3 linked regions of the Homo sapiens genome follow. The protein of the gene in region 1 purifies or fractionates together with the protein of each later gene. This does not show direct contact. Each region holds a gene or a part of one and is shown in the gene's direction. Other genes may lie near its edges.

What was found.
Region 2: the proteins of LSM14B (region 1) and CILK1 purify together in Homo sapiens (affinity purification with mass spectrometry; 3 studies listed by BioGRID and IntAct, with this or other methods). This does not show direct contact.
Region 3: the proteins of LSM14B (region 1) and CLPX purify together in Homo sapiens (affinity purification with mass spectrometry; one large-scale study listed by BioGRID and IntAct). This does not show direct contact.

What each region holds. Positions count from the first base shown.
Region 1 is NC_000020.11:62,132,339-62,135,892, forward strand, and holds the end of LSM14B (protein LSM14 homolog B), read left to right. Parts: intron 1-17; exon of another isoform or gene 18-850; intron 851-951; coding exon 952-1,123; 3' UTR 1,124-1,137; intron 1,138-1,824; 3' UTR 1,825-3,036; downstream 3,037-3,554. UniProt on the Homo sapiens protein: mRNA-binding protein essential for female fertility, oocyte meiotic maturation and the assembly of MARDO (mitochondria-associated ribonucleoprotein domain), a membraneless compartment that stores maternal mRNAs in oocytes.
Region 2 is NC_000006.12:53,051,683-53,055,336, reverse strand, and holds part of CILK1 (serine/threonine-protein kinase ICK), read left to right. Parts: intron 1-3,654.
Region 3 is NC_000015.10:65,161,212-65,164,865, reverse strand, and holds part of CLPX (ATP-dependent clpX-like chaperone, mitochondrial precursor), read left to right. Parts: intron 1-677; coding exon 678-837; intron 838-2,220; coding exon 2,221-2,262; intron 2,263-3,654. UniProt on the Homo sapiens protein: ATP-dependent chaperone that functions as an unfoldase.

The sequences.
Region 1 (3,554 bases):
TTGGCTTTTGTTCCAAGTGCCGCGGGAAGCCATCAGAGGGTTTTGTGCTGAAGCGTGGTGCGGTCTGATGTTTTACGGCGTCCTTGGTGAGAGTGGTTGGACGGTGGGCAAGTGTGGCTGCTGACTGGCCAGTTAGGGGCCAGTGCTGCAGCACAGGTGGCTTGGAACCAGGCAGTGGTGGTGACAGAGGGAAGGAGTAGAGTCTAAATGTGTCTTGAAGGTGGCGCTAACAGAATTGGCCAACATGACAAGAGAAGAGTCCAGAATGACTCCTAAGTCTTTTGGCCTGGGCGGCTGATGGGTGGAGTTGCTGTTTCTTTGAACACGGAAGTCTGTGGGAGCAGCAGGTTTCCGGCTGAAGAGGAGCTCAGGGTGGGTGTGCTGCTGGAGCTGTTGTCTGCGTCGGTAGGAGTGCTGGGTGGGAGTGCTGGGTGCACAGTTGGATGTGGGAGATAGTCTCCCACCAGCAGCTTGTTTGGGTGGCATGAGTGTCCATGCTGTATCCCTGTCTTTCAAACTCCCAAAGCAGAAGCATCACATTCCAGGGAACTTGTTCCATCTATCCTAGCCTCCTCCTTGTCTAGGAGGGTCCACTTCATGGTCCGGTCTCAGGTCTCCTGGGCCCCTGGGCCTCCCCAGGGCTCCTCTCTGTGCCCAGCGAGCAACAGCGGCTGCCTTGGTAGCCAACTAGTATCACTGCTTGCCTGTGGTGCCAGAGATGGTAGAGATGGATCCCGATCCCCGGCCCACTGTGGAGACAGTCCTGGTTGGAAACGTGGCAGGGAGCACCTGCAGTGCCGGAGCTGGGCTCCAGAGCTGACGGGGCCGCCCCTTCCCTGTAGTGGCCCTGGTGAGTCTGTCCCTCCTTCCCTGGGCCGCTCTGAGGACGAGGCCTGGCCAGAAGCCTGGGAGTCAGTGCCTGCTACAATCAGCATTTCCTCTGTGGTTTAGCTCCAGGCGGACGACGTGGGCCGAAGAGAGGAAGCTCAACACAGAGACCTTTGGGGTGTCAGGGAGGTTTCTTCGTGGCCGCAGTTCTCGGGGCGGATTCCGAGGAGGCAGGGGCAATGGGACCACCCGTCGCAACCCCACTTCCCACAGGGCCGGGACTGGCAGGGTGTGAGGGTGCAGCCAAAGGTGAGTGGATGAACCTTCTGGACGCTTTGGTGGGAGGGTGTAGGGTCAGGCACACCTGGAGAGCTTAGGAAGGTGGGGAGCAGGCTCGGTTTCCCAGGAAGAAGAGAGGCCCAGAGGTGTCAAAGCCAAACCGAGGGCCTCGACCCTATGAGTCACCCGGGAGGCTCTTGGCCAACTTCAACCTGCATCTGTGGGGGTAGGATCCAGGCCCCAGCATCCTCCAAGTGAGATTGCAGGTATGGGAGGTGAGGTGGTGCGGGAGTCGCGTGGGCTGGGGGCTCACCACCCAGGTGAAGCCAGCAAGTGAGACCTTGCTCCAAAGCCAGTGTCTTGGCCCAACCCGGCCCTAAGTGAATCAGAGGCTTCATTTTTAACCAGGTCCCAGTGGATTTGTGGGCACCTTAGGGTTTGGGCGGAGCGTCCCACATGGGGTGCCTGGTGCCAACCCCACCCAGCGCCTCGGGACAGCCAGGTGGGCCCTGGAAAGACTAGCCCTCCTGCCACTAGCTGCGTCCCTGTCCCCAGTGTATTGTACAAGTAGGATTCTCAGAGTGGGTTGTGAGAAGAATGGGGGTAGCCAGTCTGACTCTGGGGGCAGGAGGGAGGCTGAGTGGCTCCTGCTCGCCAGCAGGGGCAACAGTGCTAGCTTATCCCAGCAGATGCTTGACTTCCTGTCATCTCTTGCAGGCTCCTACTGAAGTGGCGCATAACTGACGCTGTGTGTGTCAGGACGCGAGGAAAACGCTGCACTTACAGGGAGAGGTGGTCACTTTGTTTACGGAGTTTGGAAGAGACCCATACTGCTACTTGTGTTTTGGACTTAACTGAACTTGGACATGGTCTGAGTTAGAACCACTTGTTTTGGGGAAGTATTCATGGGTAACCTCTTTGAGGTCTCTTTATCTGTGTTTCCTTTTTAGTTGCGCATAGCCTAATTCTAAGGTTTTGGTATTTTGCAAAAAGGTTTCTATAGTGAAAGCTGAATCCTTACTTTGTGACTTTTTTTTTTTTTTTTAATGACAAGCTTTGACTTTTAAAAGTGGAACCAAATCTGTTGGCAGAGGTGGCAGCCAAGTACATCTCTGTAACCCAGCTGGCCCCTGGTGCTGTTGGCCTGGCACCCCACTGCCAAGGGTGGGGTCTCAGGAGTCAGGCAGGGCCAGCACAGGGTGGCGTGGGGGGCAGGGGTGGGTGGGTGGAGGGCACGGAAGGGGTTTTCCCATGGATCATGTTGTATAAGTGAACCAGACCACCCTGATGGCATCCACAGTGATGTCAAGGTTGGGGCTGGCCAGGGGTGGGTGGACTAGAAGCATTTGGGAGTAGTGGCCAGGGGCCCTGGACGCTAGCCACGGAGCTGCTGCACAGAGCCTGGTGTCCACAAGCTTCCAGGTTGGGGTTGGAGCCTGGGATGAGCCCCGGCAGCGCCTTGGCCCTTCTGTGGTCCCTGCCAGCCTCTGACCTGGGCCGGTCAGTCATTGCTGGACTCTGGCCACACACTGGCGTTCTCATCCACTTGGAAACAAGCCAGTCTTTTCTGCAAGGTCAGTTGACCAAGAGCATATTTCCCCTCTGTTGTACATCGTTGTTTTGTGTTTGTGTTGTAACAGTGGGTGGAGGGAGGGTGGGGTCTACATTTGTTGCATGAGTCGATGGGTCAGAACTTTAGTATACGCATGCGTCCTCTGAGTGACAGGGCATTTTGTCGAAAATAAGCACCTTGGTAACTAAACCCCTCTAATAGCTATAAAGGCTTTAGTTCTGTATTGATTAAGTTACTGTAAAAGCTTGGGTTTATTTTTGTAGGACTTAATGGCTAAGAATTAGAACATAGCAAGGGGGCTCCTCTGTTGGAGTAATGTAAATTGTAATTATAAATAAACATGCAAACCTTTAAAATTTTCTTTTCTGATGCTCTAAGAATCCTGTTGACTCTTCTGCCCAAGTCACCTCTGCATCATGTCCAGGTCTGGAGCACACACTTAGGCTGGTGGAATTTGGGGAGACTTGGGCCCCATCAGGTGATGGAACGAGGTGGCTGACCCAATTGGTCGGGTGAAGTGCGGCCAGCAGACCCGGGTTCTCCCTGTGGGCCACCCTTCTGGGATGAATGGCTCTGCTCTCAGAAACTGGATACAAAGTTCTTTTAAAAACCCAGCTCACAGATAACACCTGTATCATAAGCAGTGGCCCCTTTGCCACCTTCCTGCTGCCTCCAAGCTCCCCAGCTCAGGAGCGTTCAGGTTCTCAGGCACCGTAGAGCATGTTACACAGCCATGAGCAAGCTGCACCCTGGACCCACGCAGAAAAACAAAGACATGGCTGGTTCTAGGCTCAGAGCATCCCATTTTAGTCTAATGGGTTTCCAGGTGACCTTAAAAGTGGCCCTCAGAGAGGACGAGGAGACACACCAGCTG
Region 2 (3,654 bases), on another chromosome or scaffold:
TATTTCTAGTACCTTTTTAAAAGAAATTAACAGTATTCACTGACTTTTGTAAAGTTAGGACACATTCAAACCTAGAATACGAAGTCTAATTATAAACCTGTAAAGGTAAAATGGAACTCAGAATTACCATGAGAAGGGTCATCTAATGATTTTGCATATAATCCACTTTTCCTAGGAGGATAAATGAAAGTAACAGAATCTTTTCAATGTAAGATAATTAATGCAAAGGGAGACAAGCTCCTTCTAAGGAACTGAATGGTGTCAGTGGGCCTGGTAAACCACAACTCCCAGAGAACCCCAAGTTTGCTGTAACTTTTTGTCTCCTGTCTTAGAAAATGTGTAATGATGGCATTAATTCATTGATTAAGGTTTCAAAATAAAGAATGAACTACAATTTTCCCTGCCCCTCGCCTCCATTTTTTAGGCTGTGAATGAGCAAGGCACCTGATGTGAGCTGCTGGCCATGAGCAAATGTTCTTTGCCTCCACCGAGGATTGACGCTGAGGGGAGGGAATTGGGGCAAATCACAGGAAGCTTTTCCCCAATGTCACCTAGCCAGGAACATCATAACATTGACTTCAAAGGTTTGCTGGAACTCTTTGAAAGAGAGATAAAGCTGTCTTTCTTTGGTAGTTGAGTACAGCCTTACCCAAAGGCCAAAGGCCTGATCTGACCGCATGGAGGGGGACTTTCTGTGATCCTCTGAGACTCAGTCATCTTGGCATTGTTGTGGGAGGGCCCAGGCTGCCTGCCTGCCCCAGCTATTCTGTGGTATTCACTGTTCTTCCACTTCAGAACTTCAGAACTTTTAGTTGGGCCCAACAGTTTATCTTTGTTTTGTGTATGACAAAATAGAAGCACTGAGAATTTTGAGGTACTTAGCCAAGGTGGTACAGAAAATAATAGCAAAGACTAAAACTCACATTTGGGCCCTTCAAACAATCTTTGAGGACTTGCTACTGCAAGTGGAGTGAGAAGACAAAGATGAAGCAGTCTTGGAGAGTGTCGAGGCTGAAGCAGAGGGTACACCTGCAGGTCATTGCCACGGGGAAGGGGCTGGCAGTGAGGTGAGGACAAGGCACTATGGCATCAAGGGAGAGGACCATTCTCGGGTCTATATGTGTAGGTTGGGGCAGGAGGCTTGGAAGAGGTGACATGTGAGCTCGAAAGAGAAGGAATCGATGTTTAATGTTTACTGGGGCCTGGCTGAGGCACTGGGGCACTTGTGCATCTCTTGAAAGAAAGGTGTGTAGCATACAGGGTCCTTCGGTGGCACTGTCTTCTCCGCTAACCTTTGTTCATGTGATGCAAAAAGCAGAAACATTTATCCTTTTTTTTTTCTTAGACAAATGCTAGCTCAATTCCTGATACAGAGTCACAGAATCACACAGCTTTAGAGGAAGAAACCACCTTAGAGCAAGTCCCATGCCCTAATTCCACCAAAAGTAAACTCAAGGACCAAGAGATGCCCCGAGGCACAGCAGATCAGTGCTGAGTGGAAACTGGAACCAGTCCCTCACTTTGCCTCCACTGTGGGCATGTTGGTGCTGCCAATGGCTCCAGAGGATTCGCTGATATTTGATTGCAGAATGAAGACAATTAGAACATAGCCATATCATTCATTTTCATATTTGGGCTTTGAGATACAAAGTACTACTTCTGTTCCTGTCATTTTCAGATCCTCCAAAGATTTCATGATCTTTTGAAAGCTTTCCCTTAAGTTTGGTACAGTCAGCCTGGGTTCCTGTCTCATTTCTGCCACATTAGTCGTATAATCTAGACATGTAACTTGTGTCTCAGTTTCCTTCTCTGTAAAATAGGGATAATTGTAATAGTACCTGCCTGGTAGAATTATGAGGGTTAAATGTACTAATATATGCATAAGCACTTATAATAGTACTATGCACATACTAAGTACTAAAATTATCATGTTTTGGGCATATTTGATATATGAGGGTGCTAAGTGTAGATTCGTTGTAGTGAATGATTTATCCAAGTTAATTCTTGGAGTCAAAGCAGAATTTAGAAATACTGCGAGTTAGAAATACATGCTAATTCTCAAGGTAATGGACAGGCTGCTACATTCCATTCACTTCTCAAGCAGTGTTAACTATCTGTACCAGAAGCTGAATTTAAATGCTGTCAGGGCAGAGGAGGAAAATAAAAGACTCAAGGAAGCTGGGTGTGTGCTTGTCAAACAGTAAGAAATTGCTCTTCTCTTCTAAAAAAGAACAATTTTTCTTCTCTTCCAATTTTTCTTTAAGTATAAGGTTTTTTTTTTTTTCAGGCTTTTACTTTGTCACTTTTGTTATAGGCATAGGAACAGAGAAATATTTTTCATCCAGTAAAACAAGTGGCTATGAAGGCACACAAAAAAATGACAGCTAAAAAAAAAAAATGGCAAGTGGCAACAGGCAAAAAATGGGGACTGTGGTGAGCTGCAGAGCACACGCCCAGCCTGAAGAGGTACGGACATTTCTTCCACTTCTTATTACCGTGAAGGGCTAAGGACCCCAGGTGGTTAGACCTTCAGTGTTTCCAGAGAAGCTCCAAATAGGGATTTATATAGGAAATTCCCTATTTTTTATTTATTGATTTTTTTTTTTTTGAGACAGAATCTCACTCTGTCCCAGGGTGGAGTACAGTGGTGCGATCTCTGCTCACTGCAACCTCCGCCTCCTGGGTTCAAGCAATTCTCCTGCCTCAGCCTTCTGAGTAACTGGGATTACAGGCATACACCACCACGCCTGGTTAATTTTTGTATTTTTAGTAGAGACAGGGTTTCACCATGTTGGCCAGGCTGATCTCGAACTCCTGACCTTGTGATCTGCTGCCCTTGGCCTCCCAAAGTGTTGGGATTACAGGTGTGAGCCACTGTGCCCTGCCGAAATTCCCTATTTTTAAATCTGGGATTCAGCCCCCAGAGTGCCAGTGTGCCATCTCTGGTCTACACAGCATGGAATCTCCATATGCTAATGTCATATACTCAGAGATTTCAGGCTAGAATTGTCAAGTCTTGTTCACTATGCAAAGTTAGAAGTATGCTTGGATAAAGAAAATGTACATATACACCATGGAATACTTTGCCGCTATAAAATGGTATGAGATCATGTCCTTTGCAGGGACATGGATGAAGCTGGAAGCCATCATCCTCAGCAAACTAACACAGGAACAGAAAACCAAACACTGCATGTTCTCACTCATAAGCAGGAGTTGAACAATGAGAATACATGGACACAGGGAGGGGAACAACACACACCAGGGCCTGTTGTGGGGTAGGTGGGACGAGGGGAGGGAACTTACAGGACGGGTCAATAGGTGCAGCAAACCTCCATGGCATACGTATACCTATGTAACAAACCTGCACATTCTGCACATGAATTCCGGAACTTAAAGTAAAATAAAAGAGATAAGTACATTCTATATTTTAAAACAGAATGTCCTTGTTCGCTGGGTAAGTAAGCACAGATTTCTGATTTCATTTCTAAAACACCCAACTTTGAATGAATAACACTGCTGCTGTGTAATTTAGATGATTGTATAAGTCTTTGGGATGTTTTGCTAGGGAGTGATAGGCTAAATAATAGCCTGCAAAGATACCAGGTTCTAATCCTTGGAACCTGTGAGTGTTACTTTATATGACACAATGGACCT
Region 3 (3,654 bases), on another chromosome or scaffold:
GGCAGGAAGATTGCTTGAGCCCCAGGAGTTCAAGACCAGCCTTGGCGACACAGTGAGACCCTGTATCAAAAAAAGAAAAAAATATATTTTTAGAAAATAAAAAAAAATAAGAATACAGTTTTTAGAGTCTCAGATAAATGAGTAGCTTTAAAGTTAATGTCTGAGAAAAAATTAAATTTACTAAAACACATAGATACTGATAGTATAATGGCTTTTGATTATGTAATGCCTGTTTCTGAAAAGAGTAGTTTTATAATGTTATCTTTGTGAAGAATGTTATTCATTTGATTGACAGGTATGGATTTATTTTAATGATTTACATTAATGTTGATACTTTTAGACCATGGTGGCATGTGTATGTATTCTAAGTTACTTTAAATTTAATTTGTTATCAAAAAATAAAGATTGATAGCATTGTTTATAGAATAGAAATTAGCACAACACTAGTAGAGTACAGTGATACTTTGTTAAGCTAGAGAACAAATGAATTGTGTTTTTGTTCATTTAGTGTTCAGGGCCTCTGAATCATTGCTATATAATGTATTGTCATTTTGTTTTTAATGAGAGTCTTTGTTCAGATTTAAAACTGTAAGCAAATATGCTTAGTAAATAACTTTTTAATGTGTGTGCTCTTATAATAGCTCATATTAAATTATTCATACCTAATCATTTTTCAGATTTATAACTACCTCGACAAGTATGTTGTTGGCCAGTCATTTGCTAAGAAGGTGCTTTCAGTTGCTGTGTACAATCATTATAAGAGAATATATAATAATATCCCAGCTAATCTGAGACAGCAAGCAGAGGTTGAGAAGCAGACATCATTAACACCAAGAGGTAGCGTTTTTGATAATTGACCTAAATAGAGATTGCTATGCTTAAAAGTAATCTTTATTTGTAACTCCTCACTTTCTTCTTAAAATGTTTTTTATATAGTGTGGCATTTTTCAAAGTGCAGGTTATTCCCCATTAGTGTGTTATGAAATCATTTGCCAACAGCATTTTTTAAAAATTTGATAGATATGAATAGAAAATAACAGAATACATTAACTTACAGTTAAGGTAAATATTATTTCTTAGGCCTGGCATGGTGGCTTATGCCGGTAATCCCAGCACGTTTGGAGGCCGAGGCGGGGGGATCACTTGAGGTCAGGAGTTCGAGACCTGCCTGGCCAGCATGGGAAACTCCGTCTCTACTAAAAATACAAAAATTAGCCAGGTGGGGTGGCACATGGCTGTAGTCATTATACAGTATACTGTATAATCTCAATTTACTATGGACAATAATGTATATTAATAGAATGATTTATTAAAAACAATTATGCATAGAGTAAATATGAATATTTAATTTTTTGTTTTGTTGGCCAGACAGCCCCAATTTCTGATTTAGGCCTATATTCCATCATTTTAGATTCTTTTAGTTATCACTGTACAGTGTGAAGGAGTTCTGCTAAGTACTTAAATTTATAAGTCTACATTATCTTTGATTGCCTTTAGTAGCAACTAAATGTATAATTTATTTCAATGAAGACACTTGTTCACTTGCTGAACTTACATCACATAACTGCAAAATAGGTATGTGATGGTATCAGTTATTTTTAGAAAGTATAAGTCATAACTAACGGATGACTTGGAACCTTTTTCTTTTTTTCAAGACAAGGTCTCTCTCTGTCACCCAGGCTGGATTGCGACTCACTGCAGCCTCAACTTCCCAGGCTCCAGTGATCCTCCCACCTCAGTCTCCCAAGCAATCCATCTGCCTCAGCCTCCCAAAGTGCTGGGATTAATAGGCGTGAACTCTTGCGCCTGGCCTGAAATCTTCATTTTTATAAGGTCCAAATAGCACTGATAGTTATGGAGCAAAACTTTTTTGTTTTCCTCGGTAATAAATAGATATTTAAGCTATTCTAAGTGCTGGAGGAGCAAATGGTTATAATATTTATAGCATGAGGGGCTTAAACTCTTATTAAAGACTTATGTTATTATACCCTTACAATAGATATCAATTATATATTTGACAAATGTGAATATTAGCAACTGGACAGCGGTCTTTATGCATGGTTTTGTTTTAATATAGAAAAGATATAGCATATATGAAAAGCTGAAAAATGTTAATGAACAAATCCTTTAAATATATTTGAAAGAGGACAGGAGGTGGGATACTCATTGTTTGTTCCCCCAAGGTAAACAAATATGTAATATTTTCATCCTCTTTCTTAGAGTTAGAAATAAGAAGACGGGAGGATGAGTACAGATTTACAAGTAAGTGACTTCAGGTCCTCCTCTGTAATCATTCTTCCTTTTGACATTTATTTCAGTGAAGTGTTTCAGCAGTAACAGTGATAGACATGTATGTATTTGCTTGTGTATTACCAAGAAAGATACGTATTATCTAAATGTGTTTATCCTACATGGTATATATAACTTTGGAATAGTTTTTCATAGCTAATTTGTGTCGTTTCCATATGTTGGGTTATTTTTTATTTTTTCTATCAAACTACAATTAGAGTTGGCCTGCTTCTTGTGGGTCACAGGAATTTGGGGGAGGCAGATTATTTTCTAGCTACTCTTTGCCAGAAAGCACACTGTTTTTTGGTTTTTTTTGTATTTATGAAACTTACAGTCTTACAAATTATGAGTAAGTCTTAATTCACTGTTTCCAGCCCCAGATTGCCCCTACAAGCATCAGATGGTCCGATGGAGGGTGTGGAAGGACTTGATAGACCAAGGAGAGTGGCCTTTCTGTTGTGTTCCACCTATTCCTTTGGAGGTGGATATAGTTAGTTGCTGCATTGAGGGTGGAGGTTCCAGGGGTGTCATAGAAAGATTCACATGGCCTTTTGTTTTAGTAATTGAAATAAAGAAAATTAGCTAAGTTTGATGTTTTTACATTTGCCTTTGAACCAAGTAGTATTATATATCCACTATTTGAAGTGTACTATATATAGGATGAGCCATGAGAATATAACTTGTGTACCAACTTGGGCATGACATTTATCACATGTAATAAAATTACATTATCCCCAGTTATTTTTAAATTTATAGAAATACTGATTATACCATGCGTGGTAAAATTAAGAAATACAGTAAGTGCAATAGAATTAGATTGTATATAAGAATGTAAAATCTAAATAATAACCTTTAGGTATATATGTAATTTATTTCATAATAAAAAAATATATTCAGATATGCAGTCAATACCATACTCATAAATTGTGTTGACAGCTAGTTAACCTATACTAAATTAGTAAAGAAAGTCTGTAGTGCATATTTTGAAAGACATGTCATGTAATATATGTAGTGATTTAATGTTATTTAAATGTTAACAAGTAACAGTATTTAAGAACTTATGTAAAAGATTGACTTAGAAACAAATATTTCAAAAGCTTAAATTTATTGTCATGTGCAGTTTTGTTGTGTTTTACATGGGATTTTAAGTTCTAAAGTTAGGTTGTTAACTAACACTGGCTGGGGGTGTTAGACCCTAACACTGGTCTAGGGTTTTAGACCAAAATCATGTACAATAAGATTAATTCTTATAAGTCCCTTTGGAAGTCAAATTTTAGAGACCAACATACAGCTTTTAGGAGGACTGACACAATTGGCTTTTTTTCTCCATCTTTGGAATATAATGTTGTTTTTTAAGTTGAGCAC